Homo sapiens: one gene and its partners. The protein of the gene in region 2 purifies or fractionates together with the protein of the main gene of each other region. This does not show direct contact. Each region holds a gene or a part of one and is shown on either strand. Other genes may lie near its edges. The genes, in order: NEURL4, MAPK6, SLC27A4 and ECH1.

The links.
Region 1: the proteins of MAPK6 (region 2) and NEURL4 purify together in Homo sapiens (affinity purification with mass spectrometry; 7 studies listed by BioGRID and IntAct, with this or other methods). This does not show direct contact.
Region 3: the proteins of MAPK6 (region 2) and SLC27A4 purify together in Homo sapiens (co-immunoprecipitation; 2 studies listed by BioGRID and IntAct, with this or other methods). This does not show direct contact.
Region 4: the proteins of MAPK6 (region 2) and ECH1 purify together in Homo sapiens (affinity purification with mass spectrometry; 3 studies listed by BioGRID and IntAct, with this or other methods). This does not show direct contact.

What each region holds. Positions count from the first base shown.
Region 1 is NC_000017.11:7,326,330-7,333,500, reverse strand, and holds the start of NEURL4 (neuralized-like protein 4), read left to right. Parts: upstream 1-4,165; 5' UTR 4,166-4,188; coding exon 4,189-4,470; intron 4,471-5,616; coding exon 5,617-6,061; intron 6,062-6,270; coding exon 6,271-6,336; intron 6,337-6,491; coding exon 6,492-6,790; intron 6,791-6,952; coding exon 6,953-7,064; intron 7,065-7,157; coding exon 7,158-7,171. UniProt on the Homo sapiens protein: Promotes CCP110 ubiquitination and proteasome-dependent degradation. By counteracting accumulation of CP110, maintains normal centriolar homeostasis and preventing formation of ectopic microtubular organizing centers.
Region 2 is NC_000015.10:52,015,083-52,022,227, forward strand, and holds the start of MAPK6 (mitogen-activated protein kinase 6), read left to right. Parts: upstream 1-4,136; 5' UTR 4,137-4,294; exon of another isoform or gene 4,295-6,482; intron 6,483-7,145. UniProt on the Homo sapiens protein: Atypical MAPK protein. Phosphorylates microtubule-associated protein 2 (MAP2) and MAPKAPK5.
Region 3 is NC_000009.12:128,335,685-128,343,539, reverse strand, and holds the start of SLC27A4 (long-chain fatty acid transport protein 4), read right to left. Parts: upstream 3,014-7,855; 5' UTR 2,702-3,013; intron 1,384-2,701; exon of another isoform or gene 1,175-1,383; coding exon of another isoform or gene 1,148-1,174; exon of another isoform or gene 780-1,147; intron 414-779; coding exon of another isoform or gene 408-413; coding exon 247-407; intron 1-246. UniProt on the Homo sapiens protein: Mediates the levels of long-chain fatty acids (LCFA) in the cell by facilitating their transport across cell membranes. Appears to be the principal fatty acid transporter in small intestinal enterocytes.
Region 4 is NC_000019.10:38,828,778-38,836,746, reverse strand, and holds the start of ECH1 (delta(3,5)-Delta(2,4)-dienoyl-CoA isomerase, mitochondrial precursor), read left to right. Parts: upstream 1-4,952; 5' UTR 4,953-4,974; coding exon 4,975-5,026; exon of another isoform or gene 5,027-5,051; intron 5,052-5,230; coding exon 5,231-5,438; intron 5,439-5,580; coding exon 5,581-5,669; intron 5,670-7,969. Other genes in the region: HNRNPL (heterogeneous nuclear ribonucleoprotein L), read left to right, coding at 1-25. UniProt on the Homo sapiens protein: Isomerization of 3-trans,5-cis-dienoyl-CoA to 2-trans,4-trans-dienoyl-CoA.

The DNA of each region.
Region 1 (7,171 bases), on a different chromosome or scaffold from region 2:
AGAGACTGAAGGCACAAACTGTTTCAGTATAATAAAGAAATAGTTAGAATAAGAATAGTCATAATACAAATTAGATATAGAGATGATCATGGACAATTATCAATCATTATTATAGACATTATTAATCATTAGCTTTTAATATTACTGTTTGTTGCATTACTAATATAACCTAGGAATAACCGGCGGGTATAGGGTCAGGTGCTGAAGGGACATTGTGAGAAGTGACCTAGAAGGCAAGAGGTGAACCTTCTGTCACGCTCGCATAAGGGCCGCTTGAGGGCTCCTTGGTCAAGCGGTAACGCTAGTGCCTGGGAAGACACCCGTTACTTAGCAGATCGCGAAAGGGAGTCTCCTTTCCTTGGAGGAGTCAGGGAACACTCTGCTCCACCAGCTTCTTGTGGAAGGCTGGATATTATCCAGGCCTCCCCGCAGTCATCCGGAGGCCTAAACCCCTCCCTGTGGTGCTGTGCTTCAATGCTCACGCTCCTTGTCCACTTTCATGTTCCTCCCGTACTCCTGGTTCCTCTTTGAAATTCGTAGTAGAGAGCAGTAGAAGAAATAGTGAAAGTCTTAATGTCTTTGATCTTTCTTATCAGTGCATAGAAGAAAACGCTGACGTATGCTGCCTTCTCTCTCTACTTCGGCTACCTAAAAGGGAAGGGCCCCCTGTCCTGTGATCACGTGACTTGCTGCACCTTGTCAATCACTTAGAAGATTCACCCTCCTTACCCTGCCCCCTTGTCTTGTATGCAATAAATATCAGCGCAACCAGTGGTTCAGGGCCACTACCGGTCTCCGCGTCTTGGTAGTCATCCCCCAGGCCCAGCTGCTTTCTCTTTATCTCTTTGTCTTGTGTCTTAATTTATTACAATCTCTCGTCTCTGCACACGGTGGGGAACACCCGCTAAGCCCCATAGGGCTGGACCCTACATCATGTATCTTGGAAAAGTTGTCTGCAGGCCCTGAGCTCCTGTCAGCACAGTCCTGGCGGAACCTGGGGCAGATACTGTCCATCATGGCAATCCTGAAGGGGCAGGAGACTAGTTGGGGGCATCAAGAGAAGAAAATAGCAATGGGGACAGGTGGTAAACGAGGCCAAATTGGCGGACCCCTGCCCCCATCCAGGCCTGATGGAAATTGTAGCACCTCCCACTGCAGGTGTCAGAAAGCAGACCCGCTGCAGACCTGAATTCAGGGCTGAGGGAAGGAAGAGGCCCCATAACCCGGCTGATCTCTGGCAGGACTCTTACCTCTCTGCCAGCACTCCAGGATTCACTGAGCAGGAGGAGCCGGCAGAGAGGTCCTCAAAACTGTCCTGCAGCCTGCAGAGGAGGGGGAAGCAGTGCCGGGAGGTGGGTGTCAGGCAGTATCCAGTCCCTGAGGCGCTCTGCCTCCTCCACCTGTCCCCTCCTTTAAATAGAGAAGAATCTCTGGACTGAAGGGTTGGGGCTGAGGGCTCAGCACCTGTGGTAGGGAGTGTTGGGCTCATCCACCATCATAAATCCATAGTCCTTGTCAGCAGGGCGGTAGGTGGCCAGGATATTCATCTCGTCCCAGTGCTGAGACTTCCTTCTGGGGCTGGGGGAGGAGACCTTCTAATGACCCCCCCATAGGCCTCCCTCATTTTCCCAGTCATTCAAAACAGGTTTTTTTTGTTTTTGTTTTTGTTTTTTGCTTTTGTTTTTGTTTTGAGATGGAATCTTGGCTCTGTTGACCAAGCTGGAGTGCAGTGGCACGATCACAGCTCACGGCAACCTCTGCCTCCCGGGTTCAAGTGATTCTCCTGCCTCAGCCTCCTGAGTAGCTGGGATTACAGGCGTGCGCCACCACACCTGGCTAATTTTTGTATTTTTAGTAGAGATGGGGTTTCACCATGTTGGTCAGGCTGGTCTTGAACTCCTGACCTCGTGATCTGCCTGCCTCGCACTCCCAAAGTGCTGGGATTACAGGCATGAGCTACCCTGCGTGGCATTCAAAACAGTTTTTGTTGTTGTTTGTTTGTTTTTTGAGATGGAGTCTTGCTCTGTTTTCCAGACTGGAGTGCAATGGTGTGATCTCAGCTCATTGCAACCTCTGCCTCCCCGGTTCAAGCCATTCTCCTGCCTTAGCCTCCCAAGTAGCTGGGATTACAGGTGCCTGCCACCACACCCGGCTTATTTTTGTATTTTTAGTAGGGACAGGGTTTCACCATGTTGGCCGGGCTGGTCTCGAACTCCTGACCTCAGGTGATCTGCCCACCTCGGCCTCCCAAAGTGCTAGGATTACAGGCATGAGTCACCACTCCGACTCAAAACAGGTTTCTTATACCTTGTTGAGGCTGGGGATGGGGTCAGACTTAATGATAATCACAGTCCTGTGCAGCCACGGTTTATGGGGCACCTGCTCTTCTCCCGAAAGCCTGGAACCTCGGACTTCCCACTCAATTGCCCTCACCTACTCTAACTCTTCATTCTTAAGGCTCTGCCCCTTTCCTTCTGGCTCCCACCCTCAGGTGTCCTGAACCCTCCCGACTCTGGGCTGGCTGCCCGCAGAGCTGGGCTCCTTACTTCTCCACATTGGGGGATTTCTGCATCAAGTTGGAGCTGTTCTTTCGTAGGATGCTCCGGGGCCGGTCCTGTTGGGAGTTTTGGGGGTTCAAGCAAGTTGGCCCAGAGTGCGGACTGCACCCGGGGCTGTTTACCTCTTGCCCTGCAGGTCCCCCAGGCCCGGGGCTGGAAGCCCTGGATACACTGGTTCGAGGCCCGGGGATGTTGAATCCACCAGGGTTCCTGCCAGACCCAAGGCTGTGGTTCGCAGCCTCCCTTGGGTGCTGACTGGGCCCGGAACCAAGGACCACTATCCCCCCGGAGGGACAGCTTGAACCAGTACTATGAGTTACGGAGCCCCCTGAGTGCACGTGGGGCCCAGAACCGTGAAACAAGACTACTCTGGAGGGCTGCCCAGCGCCTGCCTCGACTCCTGTGACCGCTGCGGGCACTCCTCTGGCTGCCCCTCCAGGGGAATCCCGGTTGAGGCCGCCAGCAGCCCCTAGGGACTCCACCTTCTCCATGGCCCCACTGGGGGGCTGCTCTCAGCGATCCTGACCCGCCTCCCGGCTCCACGTAGCCCCGCCCCTGGCCCCGCCCCCACCGCTGCCGGCCGGGGATGCTCGGGCTCAGTCCCGGGTCCACTTCTCCCCTGCTCCAGAGCTGCGGCGGGCGGAATCAAGACTATATAGAGACTCGGGCTGGGGGTCCCTCCGCTCGCCCCTTTCCTTTGTGTCCCACCCAAAGATTTTCTTTGTCTGGGCAATTTGTTCCCGCCCTTCTCCATCACCACCCTCATCCAAACCAGCCAATCCCAGTCAGGGGGCCAGGCCAGGAGCTTCGACTGTGACCTCACGGTCCTCCAGCCTGAGCTTGAGCTTCGGGGAGTTGGGCAGGGGGCTTGTTAATAGCTCTAAGGGAGATCTTTTGGGGTCATCAACGCTGTCGCTTGAAACGGCCTGTCGGGACTTCTTTAGACTCTTTGTGGTCTTAACATGGAATAGTTTGGTTGAGTTGGAGTTGAAGCTGGGCTTGACTTGAACTATCAGCGAGCTTCCCCCACCCCCGCCAGTCGGCTAGCTCAGCCAATCAGAAGAGGTGTGAGGCAAAGTGGAAGGACTGCCGCACTGTTGCAAGACACTTCGTCCTCAGTCGGGTGGCGGGAAGAGACTTTCACTACCGCTTCTCTGGGTCCTCCAGACTCGGCTCACGCTGCTTTGGAGCCTGCATCCCGAGGGGAGACACCCCCTCTTGCCGTAAAGCGAGTGCTTCAAGGTGTCACCGCCCCCTAGCGAGGGCGGGGTCGTCGGTGCCGCTGTCGCAAAGCAGAAAGTGTTTGGGCTCCAGCACCCCACCGTCGTAAAGATGCCTGCGGTGGGCGTGTCTTTCTCCCACTGTCGCAAAAGCTCCCTGCCCAGGTCTTCGTCCCCCTCGGAGCCGCTCCGTCACCTCGCTATGCCGTAAAGCGAGGCTCCCGACCCCGTGTCCTTCTGTTCTCATCGTGGTCGTCCCCAGCTCCTAGCGCGGGCTGCTTCATTGCCCGGCAGTGCCGTAAAGCATACCTGGCCTCAGCCCCCCGGTCGTATCCCTCGGACTGTCTGCCCGACGCGGTTGCCACGGTGCCGCCAAGCGCGGCTGTCGCGCTGCCCCGGTGTCAGCGGAGATGGCGGCAGGGTCGGGTGGGAGTGGGGGCTCTGGGGGAGGCCCTGGACCGGGGCCGGGCGGGGGTGGGGGCCCCAGCGGGAGCGGCTCAGGACCGGGGTCCAACGGGGGTCTGGGCAGCGGCGGGGAACTGCACCCGCGCACTGGGCGCTTGGTGAGCCTGTCGGCCTGTGGGCGTACGGCGCGGCGGCAGCAGCCGGGCCAGGAGTTTAACCACGGGCTGGTGTTGAGCCGAGAACCCTTGCGCGATGGACGCGTCTTCACCGTCCGCATCGACCGCAAGGTGCAGCGCTGGTACCGCGGAACAGAGATGTGGAGGGTGGTGGGAGGCGTCTAGAGGGAGACGGGGTAGGACAGCCAGGGTAGCCCACATTGCCGGGCACCGAGAGGGAACAGAAAGACCATAGAGCACCAGGGGGCGGTCAGGAAGACAGCATGAAGCAGAAACATTGAGTTTGAAGATGACATTAAGAGCTTGAGTTTTCTCAAGATCCAGAACCAGGGAAGGGACACGAGGGCTAACCCACTAGAATGGCTGGGAACAGACCTCCTGGTACAATTTCTTGGGCATGGAGGATGGAGAGATGTCAGAGATGTGATGGCAAGTGAAGAAAGATGCCAAGGAACGAACAAACGTAATCCCAGCACTTTGGGAGTCCGAGGCGGGCGGATCACTAGAGTCAGGGGTTTGAGACCAGCCTGGTGAACGTGGTGAAACCCCGTCTTTACTAAAAATACAAAAATTGGCCAGGCATGGTGGCGTGCGCCTGTAATCCCAGCTACTCTGGAGGCTGAGGCAGGAGAATGGCTTGAACCCGGGAGGCAGAGGTTGCAGTGAGCTGAGATCATGCCATTGCACTCCAGCCTGGGCAATAGAGTGAGTGAGACTCCGTCTCAAAAAAACAGAACAAACCATTGAAGGACAGAGGCTGTGCCAGAAAGATAGGTGAGGAGAAAGATCCAGGGTGAGGGAGGTGTGTGTGATTCAGTGAAGAGGCCAGGCTCACAGAAAAAGAACTTGGAAGGAGATTGAATCTGGGTAGAGCCTGATCTTTGGAGAGAATTAGGCCAGGGGAAAGGAATGAATGATACACAAGAGCAAGAGGTGTGGGTATAGGAAGTAGGAGAATTTGGATGGTTGGAGAGCCATAGAGACAAGGAAAGTTAGAGGAGGCAGGAGGTTGGAACCAAGGAATTTGTGCTTGGCTTGGAAAGGAGTGGTTTAGTAAACACTGAGTAGAGAGCAGAGTTGCTAAAGGAAAGCCCAAATAATTACCAAGACGGAGTCCAGAAAATCACTGTCTGCATCTCTGGATTAGTGTTCCAAGAGACAGAAAGCCAGCTAGCTGTCTGAGAGGTGGGAAGATATGGTGGCCTGTGGAATGGGGGGTGGCCCATTCTAAGCCTCTGTCCAATACCCCTATCCCAGGTCAACTCCTGGAGCGGCTCCATTGAGATTGGGGTGACAGCGCTGGACCCCAGTGTGCTGGACTTTCCAAGCAGTGCCACGGGCCTGAAGGGGGGCTCGTGGGTAGTGTCGGGCTGCTCTGTGCTGAGAGATGGACGCTCTGTGTTGGAGGAGTATGGTCAGGACCTGGACCAGCTTGGTGAAGGGGACCGCGTGGGCGTGGAGCGCACAGTTGCTGGGGAGCTTCGGCTCTGGGTGAATGGGCGGGATTGCGGTGTGGCTGCCACAGGCCTGCCCCCTCGTGTCTGGGCCGTCGTGGACCTTTATGGCAAGTGCACCCAGATCACCGTGCTACCCCCTGAGCCAGGCTTCAGCCCCCCTACTCCCATCCCCACACCTCCCCTCGAGCCCTTGGCCCCCACTGAAGACTCTGCCTTGGCTGAACAGGGGACCTCTGCAGATGAAGGTGAGAACACAGCTAGGGCAGTGGTGGTGGGGTGGGGACGGAATGGGGGAAATAGAGTGACAAGACAGGCTGGGTGTGGGCAGGGCCACCCTGATCCCCAAGTCTGTTGAATGGGAGAGCAGGAGCTAGAGGATGGGGGGTTCTCCTGGCTATGGGCCGTGAAGCAGGGACTGAACCCTTATTCCCCTCCCATCCCACCTGGTCCCCAGCCTTCATGGTGTCCCCAGCGCAGGCCCGGCCGGAGACGTTTCCTAACAGCCTTGAGTCGCATAATGGTGAGGGCTTTGGGGAGGCCCTGGGAAGGGGAGTGGGAAGTGAGGTGGACAAGGGAGGGCCCTCAGGAGAAGGGGTAGGGAGAGAGGCACCAGGTCTGGGGGTGTAGAGCCTCATCCCAACTTCCGAGCTTCCTTCTTCCATCCTGCTGCTATAGACTTTGCCAACATGGAGCTGTCTGAGGTGGTGAGCAACACCATCCTGTCTGCCTACAATGGAGGGCTCCTGAATGTGAACCTGAGCTCCCCACCGGCAGGGGAAGGCCTGGGATCTAGCGGTGCTGCCACCTCGCCCATTCTCACTTCCAACGATGCCCTGCTCTTTCATGAAAAGTGCGGGACCCTCATCAAACTCAGCAACAATAATAAGACGGCTGAGCGCCGGCGGCCCCTGGATGAATTCAACAATGGGGTTGTCATGACCAATCGCCCCCTTCGGGACAATGAGATGTTTGAGGTGTGCAAAGTCCTGTGGTCTGGTTGGCGCCTTATCCCTGGGAGCTAAAGATGGGGATTGACCCTTGGTGCTAGGAGGGTGGGCCCTGGGGAAGAACCAAGGGCTGAAGGTCCCTTTCTGCATTTACATTCCCTGCTTCTCCCTTCTGTCCCTCAATGCCAGATCCGTATCGACAAGCTTGTTGATAAGTGGTCAGGCTCCATTGAGATTGGGGTCACCACCCACAACCCCAACAGTTTGGAGTACCCAGCCACCATGACCAACCTCCAGTCAGGTACCAGCCCCGGGCAGGGGCGGGGGTGCAGGCCTGGTGTTGCTGAGGGGAAGGAAGCCCCGTACCCGAACCCAAGTGTCCACTATCACCCAGGCACCATCATGATG
Region 2 (7,145 bases):
CTCCGCCTCCCGGGTTCAAGCAATTCTCCTGCCTCAGCCTCCTGAGTAGCTGGGATTACAGGCATGCACCACCAGGCCCGGCTAATTTTTGTATTTTTAGTAGAGATGGGGTTTCACCATGTTGGTCAGGCTGGTCTCAAACTCCTAACCTCATGTGATCTACCCGCCTCAGCTTCCCAAAGTGCTGGGATTACAGGTATGAGCCACCGCACCCAGCCTACACCTGACTAATTTTTGTATTTTTAGTAGAGACGGGGTTTCACCATGTTGGTCAGGCTGGTCCTGAACTACTGACCTCAGGTGATCCACCTGCCTCGGCCTCCCAGAGTACTGGGATTACAGGCCTGAGCCACCGCATCTGGCCAAGCACTGAAATTTTTATAGCCACAGAATGGGATTTTTTTTTTTTTTTTGAGAGGGAGTCTCGCTCTGTCACCCAGACTGGAGTGCAGTGGCATGATCTCGGCTCACTGCAGCCTCCGCCTCCCGGGTTCAAGCAATTCTCCTGCCTCAACCTCCTAAGTAGCTGGGTGGCGCACGCCACCACGCCCGGCTAATTTTTTTTGTATTTTTTAGTAGAGATGGGGTTTTACCCTGTTGGTCAGGTGATCCGCCCACCTTAGCCTCCCAAAGTGCTGGGATTACAGGCGTGAGTCCGCGCCCAGCCCAGAATGGCATTAAGAACTGAAACCGGGCTGGGCGTGGTGGCTCACACCTGTAATCCCAGCACTTTGGGAGGCTGAGGTGGGCAGATCACTTGAGGTCAGGAGTTCAAGACCAGCCTGGCCAACATGGTGAAACCCCCTCTCTACTAAAAATGCAAAAATTAGTTGGGCGTGGTGGCGCGCCCTGTAATCCCAGCTACTGGAAGGCTGAGACAGGAGAATACCTTGAACCTGGGAGGCAGAGCTTGCAGTGAGCTGAGATCCTGCCACTGCACTCCAGCCTGGGCCACAGAGCCAAACTCCATCGCGCGCGCGCGCGCGCGCACACACACACACACACACACACACACACACACACACAAACTAAAACTGGCCGGGCATGGTGGCTCACTCCTGTAATCCCAGCACTTTGGGAGGCCAAGGCGGGTGGTCAGGAGTTTGAGACCAGCCTGCCCAACATGGTGAAACCCCGTCTCTACTAAAAATACTAAAATTAGCTGGGCATGTGGTGCACACCTGTAATCCCAGCTACTCAGGAGGCTGACACAGGAGAATTGCTTGAACCCGGGAGGCGGAGGTTGCAGTGAGCCTAGATCGTGCCACTACACTCCAGCCTGGATGACAAGAGCAAAACTCCATCTCAAAAAAAGAAAAAAAAAACACCAAAAAAACTAAAACCAACTACATTGACATGACTTTACAATTCAACTATCTGCAATAAATATAACTTGAATTCCAAGAAACTCTTGCCTAAAAAGGTGGAGTTGCAAATAACTTGATTGTGGTTTCAGGAACTTCCTAAAATCCATTTATCTCATTAAGTTACTCACAGAATTTGCCTTCATCAGGGTAAACAGCCCTCTGTTCTACTGAGTTTAACAACTATTTATCCCTTTAGGCTCTCTTCAAAACTCTCCCCCTCCTCTGCCCACCCACCTTAAACTATTATAACACAAATTTGTCCCAAACCCAATCAGGACCCCTCACTGAAAAACCAGTCTTAAACCAGATCCCTGGGCCAGGTGTGGTGGCTCATGCCTGTAATCCCAGCACTTTCGGAGGGCAAGGCTGGTGGATCACCAGGTCAGGAGATCGAGACCATCCTGGTCAACATGGTAAAACCTCGTCTCTACTAAAAATACAAAAATCAGCTGGGTGTGCTGGCGCGCACCTGTAGTCCCAGCTACTCGGGAGGCTGAGGCGGGGGAATCGCTTGAGCAGAGGTTGCAGTGAGCAGAGGTTGCAGTGAGCCAAGATTGCACCACTCTGCACTCCAGCCTGGCGACAGACCGAGGCTCTGTCTCAAAAACAAACAAACAAACAAACAAACAAAAACCAGATCCCCCAAATCTTGTAATTATTCCATCCTTGACCTCCCCTTTGTCTCACGTGTCCGTGTGAAGAGACCACCAAACAGGCTTTGTGTGAAAAACAAGGCTGTTTATTTCACCTGGGTGCAGGCGGGCTGAGTCTGAAAAAGGAGTCAGCAAAGGGTGGTGGATTATCATTAGTTCTTACAGGTTTTGGGATAGGCAGTGGAGTTAAGAGCAATGGTTTGGGGGCAGGGGGTGGATCTCACAAAGTACATTCTCAAGGGTGGGGAGAGTTACAAGGAATCTTCTTAAGGATGGGGGAGATTATAAAGAACCTTCTTAAGGGTGGGGGAGATTACAAAGTACACTGATCAGTTAGGTTGGGGCAGAAATAAATCACAATGATGGAATGTCATCAGTTAAGGCTATTTTCATTTTTTTTGTGGATCTTCAGTTGCTTCAGGTCATCTGGATGTATATGTGCAGGTCACTGGGGATACGATGGCTTAGCTTGGGCTCAGAGGCCTGACACCCTTTTGAAATGCTACAAAGATTCTGTCAATTTAGTGGTCTCCCTTACTATTGTAAGCCAACTTTGCATTATCCACAGGAAGTCAGCAGTGACACTGGATTAAATGCTCCTTGAGGGAAGGCACAGTGCTTGGTATTTATTCTCCCACCTTCTCTGGGTGATCAGACATTGATGGAAAAGGAAGGTAAACGAGTTCTCAAAGAGTGAGAGGAAAAATGTCCTGAGGATCAGAGGAGAGCCTAGAGCAGAGGCAGTGGGGCTGAAGGTACGAGCTCTCGTTGCAGAAGCTGGAAATTCTGCGGTTGGAACAAGTCTCCCCTTTCTCTTGGTTTTTTTCACTCATTACCTCTTCTTCACACCTGGTACTCAGCTGACGTTGTTTTAAATATTAAAAAATATAAAGCATTCAAGCTCACCCCAACCACTTAACTTCATTACTCTGTGATTTTTTTTTTTGAGACAGAGTTTCGCCCTTTCGCCCAGGCTGGAGTGTCCTGGCGCGATCTCGGCTCACTGCAACCCCCCGCGGGGTTCAAGCTATTCTCCTGCCTCAGCCTCCCGAGTAGCTGGGATTACAGGTGTGAGCCACCACACCCGGCTACTTTTTGTATTTTTAGTGGAGACGGGGCTTTCACCATGTTGGCCATGCTGGTCTCGAACTCCTGGCCTCAGGTGATCTGCCCGTCTCGGCCTCCCAAAGTGCTAGGATTACAGGCGTGAACCACCACGCCTGGCCCTTTGTGATCTTTTTGAAGTGGTCTTTGCCTCTTTCTTGAAGATGCCCATAATAATGACTAGAAGGGCTATTCTATGTCTGGTTCTCAGCAAGATGGTGATGAAGTCATTGAAAAAATATGCTGACCTGCGTCTCTAATTTCATAAATACTTAAATTTCACATAAACACTGAAAAGGCTCCTTGGACTCAATAAGCCATGATAAGTAATGTAAGTTTGCTTTTAGCCAAGTGGGCCCAAGAAGGCACCCATCCACCTTTCTACGTTTCATAGTGCATCCCTTCCCAAATTCAAATTGTCCTATCCCAGTTCCTGCAACAAGCCAGGTACTCTGGCCTCCCAGTCTTTGCTCACAGAAACACCCTCCCCACCTCCTGGTTATATCCGCTCCTCCGGGATCCAGCTGAAAGGCCACCTTGGCGACCACTCCTGAAAGCCTTCCTCCATACTCTGGCAGAATGAATGACCTTAGTATTGGCCTCTAACGCGTCTGTCTTGTGCTCGGGCTGTCGCCTTCCAGCCAATCCATCTTAAGGTCCACCCTTCCTGGAGACTGAGGCCTCTTCCTCTCGGATTGCCCAGTGCCTTGCACGTAGTAGGTGCTTAGTAAACGCTGGCACTGGGTTTGGTCACTTTGTTCCCTTAATGCCAGGGCAGGTAGTAGAGCAAACGGCCCCAGCTGTCTTCCTCCCTGCCCGCCCGCAGGCAAAGCCCCCAGGAGACGCCGGACGAGCCGCGTGCCTTTCCCACCGCCTCCGCGGCGCGCGCAGCCCAGTCACGGGCGCTGGAAATTCCGGCGCGTGCGGGTGCGCTGGGCAGGGCGGGGGCGGGAGAACCCGTGGAGTGAGCCTGTGACGTGAGGGGGCGTGGCACCGCGAAGCCCCGCCCCCTCTTCCTCGCCCTCTCTCGCGGGTCGGGGTTACATGGCGGCGACTGCGGCAAAGCGAGAGCCTCGGAGACGCCGCTGCCGCCAGCACAGCCGGAGACCTGAGCCGACACTGGGGGCAGTCCGCGAGCCCCGCACTCTCTCGATGAGTCGGAGAAGTCCCGTGAGTGTGTGTGTGTACGTGTGCGGGGTGCGCCGGCGGGGCGGCTCGGGAGGGCGCCGCGGCGGGCCCGGCGGCGGCGGCGGCGGCGGCGACGGCGGAGCCGGCTCCCTCCTCCATTGTGTGTGACCCTCCGGCGGCTGCCGCTCAACAAAGGCGTTTTTGTTCGGTCTGCCGCCCGCCCCCTGCTCGCCCGCCTGCCCGCCCGCTCGGGCCTGGCCGGCGCGTCCCCGCGCGGGCGGGCGGGCGGCGGGCTGGGGTCCCCGCGTGGGGCCGGCCAGGCGGCCAGCGCGCCCCTCCCACCCGGCACGCCCCTCGCCGGTCGCCCTGCCAGGCCGCGCCCGCTCCCTGGCCCCGCACGCCTGCTGCCGTCCCGCCGCCTGCGCCTGGCTCCGCGGGTTCGAAACCCAGCCGGACCGGACCGGAGGGCGGGCGAGCGAGGGGCGGCGGCCCGGGGAACATGAGGTGGCGTGGAGTCTCGCCTTACTGGCACGCTGCCTTTCGAAATGCTCCCGCGTCTCCTCCCCCATCCCACCCGGTGACTCGGCCTCAGCTGACTCCGGCCGGGCAAAGTCTCCAGTGGCGTAGCGCGCAGCGCTCACCCGGCTCGTCTCAGAGCCCTGAAGTCCGCCCAAGTTTTGAGTCTTGCCATGAATGAGGTACTGAAAACTCGGAGACGAAATTCCTAATTTCCTCCCTCGGCCCTACAGTCTTTCCTTAGCTTCTTTCGGGACCTTAAGTGGTGGTCTGTAAAAGTGCCCAAATGAAAGCTTGTTTTGTCGGTTCACCAAAAAGGGCCTTGTCACTTTGCTGTGCATTTTAGTCCGCCTTGTGAGTTGTGTCGAAAAGTAAAGGTGTTTTGGCATCCTTTTGTTTCTTGGCGAGTGTAGGACCCAACCGGTTTAGGTGTTAGGGGGATCTCTGTGCAGCGGGAGCTTCTTGATTCCTTTCCTGTTTTATTTTTTCTTTTGCTTGTTCATTGGAAAAGGTCCAGTGAAAGGGACTGGTGAGTTGGAATTAGAAGCCTACTTGTATTAACGGCAGAATTCGTGTTCATTGCTAAAGATGCAGTCTCAGTAATGACTTTTTTTTTTTTAACGGATACAGATGATTTGTCAAGGGGAAAAATTAACACGCCATACAATGAAGAGCAAGCAGCTTCAGAGTAATTTTCTGATGGCTGATTCTTCTAGCCTGTCTCTTACAGTTCCAATTGCACATGTCCTCCCTCTTTAACGCTGGAAAACTGAGATGGAAAGAATGATCTGACCAGAAGAATGTAGGGTCCAAACAGGGCCTGGCCCTGAAATCAGGAATTTCTTCATAGAAATATCAGATTTTAATGTTTAAAAAATAATTTTGAATTGGGTGAAAGGAACTTTGTCTTTAGATAGTAGTTGTTCAAACATGTTTATGAAGTGTTTGCTATGTGCCAGGGATTGTAAAGTCATTTCACATATGTTACATCATTTATTAAGAATTGCCTTAAGCTTGTAAAATTATTCATTGATGTCCTGAATTCAGTAATTGCAGTTAATCTAGAAAATATGCCAGATTTGAGCAGAACATATTTGATCACCTAGGTATTACTGTTGAGAAGAAAACACTGGAAAATGGAGACTATTTTAGAAAAAACTTCGTATATGAGGATATTCTGGAATTCATTTATTTGCAAAAGAGGATTAGAAGTAGTCGTTGGCTACTTTCTGTTATTAAAAAATCCAGAGAAGAGTGATTTGAAGTCAGTTAATTTTGTAATAAAAAAATGCACACATTCTAAAGACTAATGTTAGCACTAAAAGTGTTGCAGTGCTTTACATAAATTCATTTAAAGCATCGTGAGAATCATAACTGACAAAATAGTAAGGTTTGCTGACTCAGGGTACTTTGCTGAAGGGGATGGGGGTCGGGTAGGAGGAAGCTTACAAGTGCTGCTGCAAGTTTTGAGTTGGATGATGACTCATGCTGCCCACGGACTGCTACGTGGCTTTTTTTTTTTTTTTTTTTAAATACACTGTATTTTTTTCTAAATGATAGGCTAAAATGTTCCTGTCCACATTGAAATTCTCTCTCATTTTTTCTGAAGAGGAACAGCAGTTTCTCTAAAAAAGTAATGGCTTCTTAAATTGCATTTTAAAAGGATATCATATACCCTACAGGTGGAATTGTGTAACATTTGCTGAGAGGAAAGGTAAAACCAATTTCTGGTCAGGTGCTGAAATTAAATGTTTGATACTAGCAGTTTTTTGGCTACTGCTGAGAGAGATTTGTTACAGGTTGTTTATAAAGGACAGATAGTACTTTTATGGTGTCGGTAGAAATTGACCTTATGTTTTTATTGGTTATGTGAAAGTTATCTTTATATTTAATATTTAATCAGATATGGCTCTGAATATGAAAGTTTCACTCAGAATTATTAAAACATAATTATATATTGTGCTTTGTGATTTATGTGAATTTTCTGTTTTAATAAAGACAATTTGAAATAGGTATTAGTCACTATTTTTCATGGTTTTTTTTTAAAGATAAGCTGAATGTACAGTTCTAAGTTGAAACTTGGTAATAAGATAAATCTTTTGACTGATTTTAAAACAGCCAACGTTTAGCAAGGTGGCTTAAAATAAGATTGAGAGGGGGAAAAAGATTGAGAATGGCAGTTTAAGAGTGGGGCTGGGTGCGTTGGCTCACACCTGTAATCCCGGCACTTTGGGAGCCTGAGGTGGAAGGATCGCTTGAGGCCAGGAGTTCAAGACCAGTCTGGGCAACATAACGAGACCCTGTCTCAATTTTTAAAATAAAAGAAAAAAAATTTCCCACCCCATCCTCTGGTTTTTCTGTGTATACTGTTTATTTT
Region 3 (7,855 bases), on a different chromosome or scaffold from region 2:
CAAGCCTGCCCAAGGCCTGGGAGCCTCAAGTTAGGGAGATTCCCTGGGAGAAGACTTTGACCTTGGAGATGGAGGGACCAGGTACTATTGCCAGGGTACGGGTGTGGAGCAGAGGCTGCTGTTCTGGAACTCAGCTCAGCTGCCCTGTGCTGGTAGAGAACATGAGGTCTGGCCTGGGGAGATTTGGGGGACCAGAAGCTCACTGTAGTGTGGCAGACCCCAGGAAAGGCTGGGCCAGGTACTCACAAGATATCGCGCCTGATGGTCTTGATGAAGACCCGGATGAAGCGCCAGCCGCCAGATCCCAAGTAGAGGAACAACAGGGAGAATCCCACCTGGGTCCAGGGCAGTTTCAGCACCAGCTTGGAGAACAGCAGCACCCCCACCAGAGAGGCTCCAAGCAGCATTGTGGCCTGCGGACACAGGGCAGTTAGTGGACCCAAACACCCAACCCTCCAGGTCTCCTACCTCCCAGCCCAGACAGCCAGGCCACTGTGATCCCAAGGGGACAGCCTGTGGTAAGGCTTAGCCATACTGAGTTGGGTGACTGACCACAGGGGTCCCTTTCCAGGCTTGGCCTGGAAGGGGCAGGCTAGGGGCTTGGCACTTGAGGTGAGGAATTCCAAGAGTGAGAAGCAGGAGGCTGGTTCTCGTCTCATAGTCCCATCTCTGCCCACCATTCTCCAAGTGACCTTGGGCAAGACCTTTTCACATTTTAGACCTTAGTATCTGCCCTCTGTGCAATGGGTGTAGTGAGACGTGTTCTTTTTTTTTTTAAGTTTTTAAACTTTTTATTTGCATATTAAAAAAACTGTGCATTCCAATAATTAAAATCATTTGAACAAAAAAAAAAATGGCACTCTGATTAAACTGCATTACAGCCTGCAGGACACCTTGGGCCAGCCTGGTTTTACTCTAGATTTCACTGTCGTCCCACCCCACTTCTTCCTTCACCAACAAGCAAGTTCTTTCCTTCCCTGCCAGCCAGATAGACAGATGGGAGAGGCAGGCGCAGCCTTCGTTGTCAGTAGTTCTTTGATGTGAAAGGGGCAGCATAGTCATTTAAACTTGATCCAACCTCTTTGCATCTTACAAAGTTAAACAGCTAAAAGAAGTAAAATAAGAAGGCAATACTTGTGGAATGTACAATGCATATTGGCGGTGCACGCCTCATTACGATTCGCTTGCTTGCTTCTCCTGTTCAATCGTTTCTTTGGAAGGCAGTGGATTTTTCTCTTGCATCTCTGTCTTCTTCAGTTTCGACTTATCGAATTTCTCAATCTCAGCCATATCGGGTTTGTCAGACATGGTTGCGGAGGAAAAGCGGAGCGAGGCATGCGAGAACGAGCGAAGTCTGGTCTGCGCAGTGGCCACCACCGAGTTGTCCTGAGACGTGTTCTAAGAGGCTTTTCTAGCCAAAACATGACAGTTCACTCTTCTGACATCCAGGGTCCCTAAAACCGGATGGCCTGGGGGTGGGTACTGACTTAAGAGCCTCTGGCTCGCTGGCAGTGGTGGCTCACACCTGTAATCCCAGCACTTTGGGAGGCCGAGGCAGGCGGATCATGACGTCAGGAGTTCGAGACCACCCTGACCAAGATGGTGAAACCCTGTCTCTACTAAAAATACAAAAATTAGCCAGGCATGGTGGCACACACCTGTAACCCCAGCTACTCAGGAGGCTGAGGCAGAAGAATTGCTTGAACCCGGGAGGCGGAGGTTCCATTGAGCCGAGATTGTGCCACTGCACTCCAGCCTGGGAGACAGAGCGAGACTCCGTCTCAAAAAAAGAAAAAAAAAGTCTCTGGCTCGACTCCCCACCCAGAACCCAGGGAGGTTCTGTGGATGACCAGGCCAAGTCAAAGGGGCAGCTCCCTGGAAAAGGAGCCCTGCTTGGTCCCTGCCCATAGACTCAGGTATCGCAGTGCGTCTGTTGGTCTATAGAGGGCGACCCAGAAAACGAGTTAGAGCCTGGAAGTGCTTGAAAGGTGACCGCCCAGGGGGCAAAGCTGATTGAGGGAGGCGAGGAGGACCTTGAAGACACCACCACCCATCACACAGACACACACAGCCACTCGGATGAATCTTTGGGGTCTAGGGCTTAGGGGAAGGCGAATGACTTGACTGTGCTTCAGGGGCTGGGTTGAGCTAGGACTCTTGGGTTCTATTCCTGGAGCTTTGAGGACTCGATCAAGGGGACATCTGATGGGACTGTTTTTCTCCGAGTTTTCCTGTTCTTGGGAGTAGATGAAGGTCACAAATGTGAAATGGCCTGAGAGCCTCCAAGCCAGGAAAAGGGAATGGTCTGGACCACAAGAAGCCCTGGGAGACCATCTCCCCCTCCCCCTCGCGAAAAGCAAAAGCCGGGGGCGGGGGAACTGAACCAGAGTCCTCAACCCCAACGCCAGGGTCCAGGGTCCTCAGATCTCTGGCCTCCCATAGCCCGCCATAGCAGAGGGGCAGGAACCTGTCCTGGAAGGCTGGGGCAAGAAGAGGCCAGAAGAGGGTGACTAGTTCCCTCGGGCCCCTGTCCCGGGTCACGCGTGCCGCCCTCGCCCCTAGACAGCAAGGTAACAGTGCGTCTGTCGGGGAAATAGCGCCGCAGGGCGCGCCCCCCACCTGGGGTCCGCACCGCCACCTCGCCCGACTCGGCCTGGCACATGTCCCCACCCGGGAACCCACCAGCCCGGTCTATGCTCACCCGGCGTCGGCTCCGCCGCGCGGCGCCCCGTCCAGATGCGGCCCGGTTGCAGCAGCGTAGACAGCGTGAGGGGCATTAGCCGCCCCTGGACGCACGGAGCCGGGTCTCAGCAGGGTTTAGCCGGCTCTGCGCCCTGCATGGCCCGGCCGCCCCGCCAGCCCCGCCCGCCGCCCGGCCCCGCCCGCCGCGCTCCTACCCCGCCCGCCTCCCGCACCCCAAACCTGCTGTGCCAGGCCGCAGCACCGCCTGCCGCACCTTCCCCGAAGCCGGCAAGCCACAGAGCCGGCGGCGCAGCGCAGCCCCAGCGCGCCTGACGCCGCTCGGCCCCAGCCCGCCCTGCTCGCGCAACGGCTTCGGGCGGCGCCGCCGCGCGGCACGCTGGGAGTTGTAGTCCACGCCGCGCGGCCCCACCCAGCCGAGGAGACCCCCGAGTCCGCGAGGAGACAGGCGGGCTTCACCCCGGCCCTTCCTCCCTGCCGACCCCGGCCCTTGCCCCCTGCTGTCCCCAGCGCCCGGATGTAGGAAGAGCACCCCAGTCCACACCACAGCCGAAAACCCGGAGCACGCTCTCGGGCCCCGGCCGAGTTCAGCAAACACCCAGCACCACACCTAGAAGCTCGCTAAGAGGGCGGTTTCAGGCAGAGGTGAGCGGGGCGGCCGGGTTCCGCAGCCGGCTCTGTGGCGCAATGGATAGCGCATTGGACTTCTAGCTGAGCCTAGTGTGGTCATTCAAAGGTTGTGGGTTCGAGTCCCACCAGAGTCGAATTTTGATGGCTCCTACTCCCTGACTTTCACCTGCGTGTTTTAAGGACTCCAGGACCTATCTAACAAATAAGGTTCAGAACGAAAATCATAAGTCACACCCAACTTTGCTGCGACACAGCCATAAACCTGGTGTCTAGGTGACTACGAGAAATCCTTTCTCGTACCATGGTGTCTTGTGAGCAGCCTGGCACACCTGTTGGCACAAAGGACACGGATTTGGAGGCCCTTAGTTAACTTCACCATCTATGATCTCTGGTCCCTGCAACAAATCAGTTAACCTATATTTGTCATGCCACCCTTATTTGTCATGCCACCTCCAGAGCCATAGGCGAGTGGCCAGATTCTCGGCCCTGTTGGGACTCTTGGCCTCTGAAAAATTGGTTTCTTGTTAAGTAACCATGTTGGGCATCCACAGTTGCCACTTGTCCTTAAACATTAATAGATCCCTGGGAGGCTGAGGCAGGAGAATTGCTTGAACCTGGGAGGCGGAAGTCGCAGTAAGCCGAGGTTGCGCCACTGCACTCCAGCCTGGGCGACAGAGCAAGTCTCCATCTCAAAAAAAAAAAAAAAAAAAAAAAAAAAAAAGATTCTGGGACTGGCGTGGTGGCTCAAGCTTGTAATCCCAGCACTTTTGGAGGCTGAGGCAGGAGGATCACTTCAGCCAGGAGTTCAAGACCAGCCTGGGCAACATAGTGAGACTCTGCCTCTACAGGAAAAAAAAAAAAATTAGCCAGGTAGCTCTTGCTTGTACTCCCAGCTACTCAGGAAGATGAGGTGGGAGGATTGCTTGAGCTCTGGAACTTGGGGCTGCAGTGAGCTGTGATTGCACCACTAAACTCCACCCTGGGCAACAAAGTAAGACCGTGTCTCAAAAAATAAAAATAAGCTGGGCACAGTGGCTCATGCCTGTAATCCCAGCACTTTGGGAGGTTGAGGTGGGCAGATCACATGACGTCAGGAGTTCGAGACCAGTCTGGCCAACAGGGCGAAACCCTGTCTCTATTAAAAATACAAAACTTAGCCGAGCGTGGTGGTGCACGTCTGTAATCCTAGCTACTCAGGAGCTGAGGCAAGAGAATCACTGAACCCGGGAGGCAAAGGTTGCAGTGAGCCGAGATTGGGCCACTGCACTCCAGCCTGAGCAACAGAGCAGTGAGAGCCTGTCTCAGAAAACTAATAATAATAAAAATAAAGATGAAATTTTGGTCTGATAAGGATTTGGACCTATTTCTTCTGGAATATAGGGTGCCTCCTTTTGGGGACTTGAGTAAATTCCAGCACCACATCCTTCATGGGTATCACCATCAGGAGGCAGAATGTGCAGTGGTATGGGCATGAGCATTGAGTTCGCCTTCTCAGCTGAAAGGTCAAGATTCATTTTGTTCTTACATATAAAAAATGGGACATACTAATTAATAATACCTCACAGGGTCAGCGTGGAGATTTGTGGGGAGTATTTTTTTTTTTTTTCCGAGACGGAGTCTTGCTCTGTCGCCCAGGCTGGAGTGCAGTGGCGCGATCTCGGCTCACTGCAAGCTCCGCCTCCCAGGTTCACGCCATTCTCCTGCCTCAGCCTCCCGAGTAGCTGGGACTACAGGCGCCCGCCACCAGGCCCAGCTAATTTTTTTGTATTTTTTTTAGTAGAGACAGGGTTTCACCGTGTCAGCCAGGATGGTCTCGATCTCCTGACCTCGTGATCCACCCGCCTCAGCCTCCCAAAGTGTTGGGATTACAGGCATGAGCCACTGCGCCTGGCACAACATTTCTTGAATGAATGAAAGGGAGAGTGAATTGGAGGCTCTGACCTTATGCACACCAGGATTCGTGAGTATAATCATGAGTACTTCCACATCAACTACTGAGGTCATATGCAAGTGGGCAGGTGAGAGTTAGCGGGAGGATGCTGGTGACCAGCCACCTGCTCTCCTTCAGTCAGGCTCGTCACACTGGAGAAACCAAAGCAGTACCACCGGACATTGGATCAGGCCTGAGGGGGAGAAGCAAGACAACACAGAACAGGACAGCCTGCCTTTCAGTTGCTTACAGTCTAGCTGGCCGCACAGAGGACAGGTGGAAGTGAGATGGAATAGGTCATCCCTCACTCAGTGCTCACTGTGCTGGTGTCACGCTCATCACAGTATTGTCATTAAAATTTTTTAATTTTTTTTTTTTGAGATGGGGTCTCACTCCTGTTGCCCAGACAATCACAGCTGACTGCAGCCTTCACCTCCTGGGCTCAGGTGCTCCTGCTACCTCAGCCTCCTGGGTAGCTAGGGCTACAGGTGTGCGCCACCACACCTGGCTAATTTTTTGTATTTTTAGTAGAGACGAGGTTTCATCATGTTGTTCAGGCTAGTCTGGAACTCTTGAGCTCAAGTCATCTGCCCCCCCAGGCCTCCCAAAGTGCTGGGACTCCAGGCATGAGCCACCCCCCGCCAAGCTCTACCAACAAAATAATTTCAGAGTGGTGAATGCTCTAAAGAAAATAAGGGCATAGTGCAGTGGCTCATATCTGGAATACCAGCACTTTGGGAGGTCAAGGCAGGAAGATGGCTTGAGGCCAGGAGTTCAAGACCAGCCGAGCCAACATAGCAAGACCCTGTCTCTACAAAAGAAAAAAAAAAAAAAAAAGCCGGGCCCGGTGGCCCACACCTGTAATCCCAGCACTTTGGGAGGCTGAGGCGGGGGGATCACAAGATCAGGAGTTTGAGACCAGCCTGACCAACATGGTGAAACCACATCTCTACTAACAATTAAAAAAAAAATCAGCCGGGCGTGGTGGCAGGCACCTGTAATCCCAGCTACTCGGGAGGCTGAGGCAGGAGAATCGCCTGAACCCAGTAGGTGGGAGGTTGCAGTGAGCCGAGATCACGCCATTGCACTCCAGCCTGGGCGACAGAGTGAGACTCCATCCACTCCCCCCGCCAAAAAAAAAAAAAAAAAAAAGAAACCACTTGACTGGGCACGGTGGCTCAGGCATGTAATCCTAGCACTTTGGGATGCCAAAGTGGGCAGATCACCTGAGGTCAGGATTTCGAGACCAGCCTGGTCAACATGGTGAAACCCCGTCTCTACTAAAAATAAAAATTAGCTGGACATGGTGGTGCACCCCTGTAATCCCACCTACTTGGGAGGCTGAGGCAGGAGAATTGCTTGACCCTGGGAAAGGGAGGTTGCAGTAAGCTGAGATCACGCCATTGCACTCCAGCCTGGGTGACAGAGCGAGACTCCATCTCAAAACAAAAAAACAAAAAAAAACAAAACAAACAAAAAAAACTTAGCTAGGCGTGGTGGCATGCATCCATAGGCCCAGCTACTAGGGAAGCTAAAACAAGAGGATCCTGGAGCCCAGGAGGTCGAGGCTGTAGTGAGCCGTCATAGTGGCACTGCACTCCAGCCTGGGTGACAGAATGAGACCCCATCTCAAAAAATAAATAATAATAAACAGAAGATGATAGCATGGAGAGAGGCAGAGGGGGACTAGGGACTGCTTTAGATGGCAGGAAGCCCAGGAAGACATCTCTGCTGTGACATTTGAGCAGAGATGTGAATGACAAGGAGCTCACCATGTAACAACCTGGGGACACGGTGCTGTTCCCAAAGGCAGGAAGAAGCCTGGTGTGTTCAGGGAGCAGGATGAAGGCAAGCATGGTTTACTGAGATGGGAGAATAGACGTTTCTAGGCAGAAGTTGGTAGGGCCTCACCAGTGATTACCTATAGCCAGTTTGATTTTTCTCCAATCATGAGCTGGTAACACAAATGCCACCCTATACTCAGGAGACCAGACTCCATTCCCAGCTAAGCCTGATGCTTTGTGTCCATCTCACAAGTGCTACAAAGGCCCAGGGTTGTCCAGGCACTGCCTGCCTAGAGCAGGTGAGCTGCTCAGCTGGGCAGTGAAGGCCATCTGTCTGACCTCCGCTGCCACCCTGGCACTGTTGACTTTAGTGAGCTGCAGTGGGGGTGCCTGGGACCCTGGGAAGCTGCAGAAACAGCTGGCAGGTCTGCAGAGACTGGTGAGGTATGGGGACTCACTAGCATGGCCTCCTTTTCCCGCAGATTCAAGGAGCTCAGAACAAGGTTTCCCTCCTGAAAAGTCCATGGTTCTGAGGTGGGCCTCCAGCCTCCCCTGCCCTTCCTCTGCTATTGGGATCCCTGAACCAGACGTGGTGCGCACAGGGAAGGCTGGGGCCCTGGTATGGCAGTGCTGAGCAGGTCTTCAGACAACCCGTGGTTCCAACCCCAGCTCTATTCCTACTGCCTCGTTAGTAAAACACAAGCAAAATACCATCTCCCTCCTTGGGTGGTGACCTTGAGGTGTCAGTGCGATAATGCATCTCAAGTGCTTAGTACTGCCTGACATATAGTACAGTTAGAAACTGATTATA
Region 4 (7,969 bases), on a different chromosome or scaffold from region 2:
CTCCACTGCTCAGCACGCCTCCTAATTAGGTGCCTAGGAAGAGTCCCATCTGAGCAGGAAGACATTTCTCTTTCCTTTATGCCATTTTTTGTTTTTGTTATTTGCAAAAGATCTTGTATTCCTTTTTTTTTTTTTTTTTTTTTTTTTTAAATGCTAGGTTTGTAGAGGCTTACTTAACCTTAATGGAAACGCTGGAAATCTGCAGGGGGAGGGAGAGGGGAACTGTTATCTCCCAAGATTAACCTTCACTTTTAAAAAATTATTGTACATGTGATTTTTTTTTTTCCTGTTCATACATTTGTGCTGCCCATGTACTCTTGGCACATTTCAATAAAATTGTTTGGAAAATAAACACAGCACTTGCTGGGATTCCAGGATGTCTGCTTTTCTCCCTCTCTGTCCTGAAGACACAGGCAGGCCTGAGCACAGTCACAGGCCCTCTGGAGGCATACAGAGACCCAAGAGGAGCAGGGTGGGCTGCAGACTGAGAATGGTGCTAGCAATTGAGTCTTTGAGGAAAATCCATCAGGCTTAGTGGCATTCTTACTGGGCCCTGCCCGAGCAAGCTCTATCAGGCCCAGTGGGTCATCACACCTATAATTCCAGCAATCTGGGGAGGCCAAGGTGGGGCACATACTTTGAGCTCAGGAGTTGAAGACCAGCCTGGGCAGCATGGTGAAACGTCACTACAAAAAGGTGGGTTTGGTGGAACACCTGTAGTCCCAGCTACTCGGGAGGCTGAGGCAGGTGGGTCAGTTGAGCCTAGGAGGTTAACAGTGCAGTGATCACATCACTGCACTCCAACCTGGGTGACAATGAGACCCTATCTCAAAAAAAAAAAGGTTTCCAGCCTTGCCATCATGGTGAAACCCTGTCTCTACTAAAAATACAAAAATCAGCCGGGCATAGTGGCGCATGCCAGTAGTCCCAGCTACCTAGCAGGCTGAGGTGGATCACCCCAACCCTGGAGGGTGATGCTGCAGTGAACTGTGATGGGGTCATTGCACCCCAGCCTGGGCAACAGGGTGTCAAAAAAACCCAAAACCTTTGTGTTCTGTATCATTTCAGAGTGACTTGTCTTTACCCTTGCAGTATCATTGTGTGGATGTGTCATGATTTAACCTGGTCCCAAAGGGTAGTTTCCAGGTCTATTTTTGCTATTGCAAACAGCGCTGTAACACGTATCTACACAAGTATCTTGGCCAGCTTCCCTGATACTGATCAGGAGATAAATTCCTGCCAGTGGAATTGCTGGGTTAAAGGATATATATAGCTGGATGTAGTGGCCCATGCCTGTAATCCCAGCACTTTGGGAAGCCAAGGCAGGCAGATCACTTAAGGCCGGGAGTTTTGAGACCTGGGCAACATGGCAAAACCCTGTCTACAAAAAATAAGAAAGTGGGCCGGGCATGGTGGCTCACGCCTGTAATCCCAGCACTTTGGGAGGCCGAGGTGAGCGGAACACTTACGGTCAGGAGTTCGAGACCAGCCTGGCCAACATGGTGAAACCCTGTCTCTACTAAAAAAATAAAAATTAGCCGGGCATGGTGGCACGTTCCTGTAGTCACAGCTACTCAGGAGGCTGAGGCAGGAGAATCGCTGGAACCCAGGAGGCAGAGGTTGCAGTGAGCCGAGATTGTGCCATTGCACTCCAGCCTGAGTGACGAGAGTGAAACTCCGTCTCGAGAAAAAAATATATAGAAAAATGATGTGGGCATGGTGGCACACACTGTGCCTATAGTCCCAGCTACTCATGGGGGCTGAAGCAGGAGGATCACTTGAGCTGTGAGCTGTGATGGCACCACTATACTCCATCCTGGGCGAAAGGGCGAGACCATGTCTCAAAACTTAAAGGATCTATATAATTGCATCATACGGTAGATAGCTTCCCACTTGCAGATGCAAATCTGTGAAGATGCCTTGCGGTGGCGGGTACCACCCGGAAGGATCCTGGTTTAAGGATTTTGACTCCTACTGGAGGGAAGAGGTGACCTGCAGAGGAGCAGGTCACAAACCTTGAAGTTTATGCATGTGTGCTTGAGAATAGCCCACTCTGGGGAATTTACTGTGAATAAAATTTTCTTTTTTGAGATGGAGTCTTGCTCTGTCACCCAGGCTGGAGTGCAATGGCATAATCTTGGCTCACTGCAACCTCTGCCTCCTGGTTCAAGCAATTCTCCTGCCTCAGCCTCCCAAGTAGCTGGGATTACAGGCATGTGCCACCATGCCTGGCTGATTTTTGTATTTTTAGTAGAGATGGGGTTTCACCATATTGGCTAGGCTGGTCTCGAACTCCTGAGATCCACTGGCCTCGGCCTCCCAAAGTAGCTATGATACAGGCATGAGCCACTGCGCCCGGCCTTACATTTTTAACATTTAATGACATCACAAAAGCATCATTTGGCAGATGAACAAGTTTTGCTTCACTATGGGAAGTTTCAAACAATCTTTAGACAAGGAAAAACTACAGTCATCTTGCAGCCATAAATAAAATCAACTAGGGTTTATTGTTTTTAAGCCAGTCAAGGTGATAAAAAGTGAATTTTACCAGTTTGTCTCCTAGCATCCAATTTCATTTCCTGTTACCAGTTTGAGTCTCCTTCCAGAGATATTACATACATACACCATATTCTGTGCAGGTCCAGCTACACTCTTTTTTTTGAGACATTGTCTCACTCTGTCACCCAGGCTGAAGTGCTGGAGTGCAGTGGCATGAGGTCAGCTCACTGCAAACTCTGCCTCCTGGGTTGAAGCAATTCTCCTGCCTCAGCCTCCCAAGTAGCTGGGATTACAGGCACCTGCCACCACGCCCCGCTAATTTTTTTTTTTTTTTAGACAGAGTCTTGCTCTGTGGCCCAGGCTGGAGTGCAGTGGCGTGATCTCACATCAGTGCAAGCTCCGCCTCCTGGGTTCACGCCATTCTCCTGCCTCAGCCTCCCGAATAGCTGGGACTACAGGCGCCCGCCACCACGCCCGGCTAATTTTTGGTATTTTTAGTAGAGATGGGGTTTCACCGTGTTAGCCAGGATGGTCTCGATCTTCTCACCTTGTGATCCACCCGCCTTGGCCTCCCAAAGTGCTGGGATTAGAGGCATGAGCCAACACGCCTGGCTAATTTTTATATTTTTAATAGAGATTGGGTTTCACCATGTTGGCCATGCTGGTCTCAAACTCCTGACCTGAGGTGATCTGCCTGCCTGGGCCTCCTAAAGTGCTGGGATTACAGACCTGAGCCACCGCACCCAGCCCAGCTATACTTTCTTACACCAAAGGAACAAAGGATCATACTAAATGTTCTATTACATCTTCACATTTTTTTCTCACACATTTTTATTTTTGCATAGAGGTTTCAGAGTTTTCTATGGTATAAACAGTCTACTGTTGATGGGTAGTTAATGGTTCTGTCTTTCAAAAGAGCCTGCTTTTCTAGTCTGTGAAAACACACAGGAGACAGGTTCATTAAGGAAAGATACTTCCTTCAATCTCACTGGCCCAGAGACATCTGTTCACCGCCTTGCTCAATGTCTCCCCAAAAAGCATACTTAAGCAGTTTTACAGTACTTTTTTTTTTTATTTTTTTGAGATGGAGTTTCGCTCTGTCCCCAGGCTGGAGTGCAGTGGCGCCATCTCGGCTCCCTGCGAGCTCCGCCTCCGGGGTTCACGCCATTCTCCAGCCTCAGCCTCCCCAGTAGCTGGGGCTACAGACGCCCGCCACCATGCCCGCTAAGTTTTTGTATTTTTTTAGTAGGGACGGGGTTTCACTGTGTTAGCTAGGTCAGGAGGTCGATCTCCTGACCTCGTGATCTGCCCGCCACGGCCTCCCAAAGTGCTGGGATTACAGGCGTGAGCCACCGCGCCCGGCCAGCAGTTTTACAGTACTTTTTATGCCTTTTGGTAGCTGGCTTTTCCCAAGGGAATTTCGGTTTTTTTGTTTTGTTTGTTTTTTTTAAGAACATGAACTTTTTTTTCTTCTTTTTTTTTTTTTTGAGATCTTGCTCTGTCGCCCAGGCTGGGGTACAGTGGTGCCATCTCTGCTCATTGCAACCTCCGCCTCCTGGGCTCAAGCCATTCTCTTCCCGCTAGGATTACAGGTGCCGGACACCGCACCCGGCTAATTTTTGTATTTTTAGTAGAGACGGGGTTTCGCCATGTTGACCAGGCTGCTGTTGAACTCCTGACCTCAGGTGATCCGCCTGCCTCGGCCTCCCAAAGTGCTTGTATTACAGGCGTGAGCCACTGCGCCAGGCTAAGAACATGAACTCTGGTGCCAGGTAATCCTGCTTTAGCCCTTCTGAAGCCCACCGACCTTGAACCTAGTGTCTTCCCGTGCCTGGGCCAGTTTCCTCTGCATATAGTAGGAAATAGTACGACCTCCTGGTGGGAGTTCATATTATACAGTCAGCGCTTAATGTTGGCCCGTCTGTACTCATTCCTTTACCTGAGTAAACTCACAGTACTGCAAGTTTTCTTTTATTTTTAGTTAACATGATATATACATGCATGATTACAAGCTCTGCTGCAATTATGTCCTTGGACATTTCAGCTGTCGCCTATTATTCCACCATTATGAAACAGCTGTGTGATGAACTTTAGCGGGAGCTGTTTGCTTTTCTGTTTTTTTTTTTGTTTGTTTGTTTTGTTTTTTTTAAGACGGAGTGTCGCTCGGTCGCCAGGCTGGAGAGCAATGGCGCGATCTCGGCTCACTGCAAACTCCGCCTCCCAGGTTCACGCCATTGCAGGAGCTATTTTCTTTGGCCAGGTTCCCACTGGGGCAAAGGGTCCATTTCTGAGCCTGGCTCTATGTAAGGCAACCGGAAATCGACTGCCCTTAGTAAAGATGGCGGAAAGAACGGCGTCATTGCCTGTCAGGTTGCGGCATCGGTGCCCTCGCTCAACATGGCGGCCTTCTGTGCCCGCCCCCTCCGCTAACGGGCACGTTACTCCGTCCGAACGCAGTAGACGAAGGCGGCGGCGATGGCGGCGGGGATAGTGGCTTCTCGCAGACTCCGCGACCTACTGACCCGGCGTGAGTCACCTCTTGCCTTATGGGGGTGCGTCGCGCTGTCGTGCTGTTATAGCAGATGTAGGACGGGGAGGGCTATCCGGGGTCACGAAGGGCCCGAGTCCCCTAAATTCAGGGGTGCGTGTGCTCCCTTTTGAAGGACTCCCTAATTCGATAGGCCTGTGTCTTGCAGTCTGGGGTCATCAAAGGCTGTTCCTTTCTCCCCAGGACTGACAGGCTCCAACTACCCGGGACTCAGTATTAGCCTTCGCCTCACTGGCTCCTCTGCACAAGAGGAGGCTTCCGGAGTAGCCCTCGGTGAAGCCCCAGACCACAGCTATGAGTCCCTTCGTGTGACGTCTGCGCAGAAACATGTTCTGCATGTCCAGCTCAACCGGCCCAACAAGAGGAATGCCATGAACAAGGTCTTCTGGAGGTCTGACCTGCAGATCCTGGAGGCCTGCCTGCGGGGGGAGGCGGGGCTGCGGGACTGGGTGAAAGTGGAACGTTGTGGGAAGATGGACATGAGGGCAGGGTATTCCCGCCCCATTTGTAACCCTTCACTCGTTGCTTCACAGAGAGATGGTAGAGTGCTTCAACAAGATTTCGAGAGACGCTGACTGTCGGGCGGTGGTGATCTCTGGTGCAGGAAAAATGTTCACTGCAGGTACCAGACGCTCTTCACACACCCTGCCAGCCTTCCTAGCTCCTGGCAATAGACAGTGGAGCAGTGCTTCTGAATTAGGGTTTTAAGCAGCTTCTGACTTACACACTTTTTTTTTTTTTTTTTGAGACGGGGTCTTGCTCTGTTGCCACGCTGGAGTGCAGTAGCGCAATCTCAGCTCACTGCAACCTCCACCTCCCGGGTTCAAGCAATTCTTCTGTCTGGGACTACAGGCGTGGGCCACCACACCCAGCTAATTTTTGTATTTTTAGTAGAGACGGGGTTTCACCATATTGGCCAGGATGGTCTCCATCTCCTGACGTTATGATCTGCCTGCCTCAGCCTCCCAAAGTGCTGGGATTATAGGCCTGAACCATTGCTCCTGGCCCCTAACTCACACTTTTATCTGTGTGTTTTTTTTTTTTTTTTTGGAGACAATATCTTTCTCTGTCACCCAGGCTGGAGTACAGTTGCCTAATCATAAATCACTGTAACCTCAAATACCTGAGGTCAAGCGATTCTCCCACCTCAGCCTGCCAAAATGCTGGGATTACAGGCAGGTGCCACCATGGCCAGCCCTATCATTTTTTTAAAAAAAGGCCTACTTTAAAACATTCAAATATAAGTATTAGTCTGACAGAACACGATGGGATCATAGGCTCTGAAGTCTAGGTTTCCATCCTGGATCTGTGGCCATGAACAACATGCTTAACCTCTCAGCCTATAGCTGTGTCAGCATATAATATAATAACATGCTTTCGTGCAACTATTCAACTCACTAATTGATTTCCAGTTACAGGTCAGTTGGATCTTTGGATTGACCCACTGACCTTTTCTTCAGATTGGAGAATTTCCACTGGTCACAGTTACTAACTGTTTAGTCATCTCTATCCTTCTGTAAAGCCCATCCAGTGATTTATTTTGTTTTATTTTGTTTCAGACGGAGTTTTGCTTTTGTTGCAATGGTGCAATCTCAACTCACTGCAACCTCTGCTTCCTGGGTTCAAGTGATTCTCCTGCCACAGCCACCCAAGTAGCTGGGGTTACAAGTGCCCGCCACCACGCCCGGCTAATTTTTTGTGTTTCTAGTAGAGACGGAGTTTTACCATGTTGGCCAGGCTGGTCTTAAACTCCTGACCTCAGGTCATCCACCCACCTAGGGCCTCCCAAAGTGCTAGGATGATAGGCGTGAGCCACCGTGCCCAGCTACTACCCACTGATTTTAAATTTCAGATATTGTAGTTTTCTTTCTTTTTTTTTTTTTTCTGAGACAGAGTCGCTCTGTCACCCAGGCTGGAGTGCAGTGGTGCGATCTCGGCTCGCTGCAAGCTCTGCCTCCCGGGTTCAGGCCATTCTTCTGCCTCAGCCTCCCGAGTACTGGGACCACCAGTGCCTGCCACCACACCCAGCTAAGTTTTTGTGTTTTTAGTAGAAACGGGGTTTCACCGTGTTAGCCAGGATGGTCTCGATCTCCTGACCTCGTGATCTGCCCGCCTCGGCCTCCAAAAGTGCTGAGATTACAGGCGTGAGCTACCACGCCCAGCCCAGATATTGTAGTTTTCAATTCTCCAATTTCCATTTGGTTCATATTTTATTTTATTTTATTTATTCATTTATTTTGAGACAGAGTCTCGCTTTGTCACCCAGGCTGGAGTATAGTGATGCAATTTTGGCTCATTGCAACATCTGCCTCCTGGGTTGAAGCAATTCTCCTGCCTCAGCCTCCTGCATAGCTGGGATTACAGATGCCCGCCACCAGGCCTAGCTAATTTTTTTTTTTTTTTTTTTTTTTTTTGGAGAAGGAGTCTCACTCTGTTGACCAGGCTGGAGTACAGTGGTGCAGTCTGGGCTCACTGCAACCTCCACCTCCCAGATTCAAGCCATTCTCCTGCCTGAGCCTCCTGAGTACTTGTGATTACAGGCACCCGGCACCACGCCTGGCTAATTTTTATATTTTTAGTAGAGACGGGGTCTCACCATTTTGGCCAGGCGGGTCTTGAACTCCTGGCCTCCAGTGATCGGCCCCCCTCGGCCTCCCAAAGTGCTGGGATTACAGGCGTGAGCCACTGTGCCTGGTCAGTTGTATATTTTTTGTCATGCATGTTTTTCTTCCTGCCATTGAGCATAGTTATAATGACTGATTTAAAATCCTTGTCTTCTGGCCAGGTGTGGTGGCTCACGCCTGTAATCCCAGCACTTTGGGAGGTCGAGGCAGGCGGATCACGAGGTCAGGAGATCGAGACCATCCTGGCTAACATGGTGAAACCCCATCTCTACTAAAAATAAAAAAAAAGAATATTAGC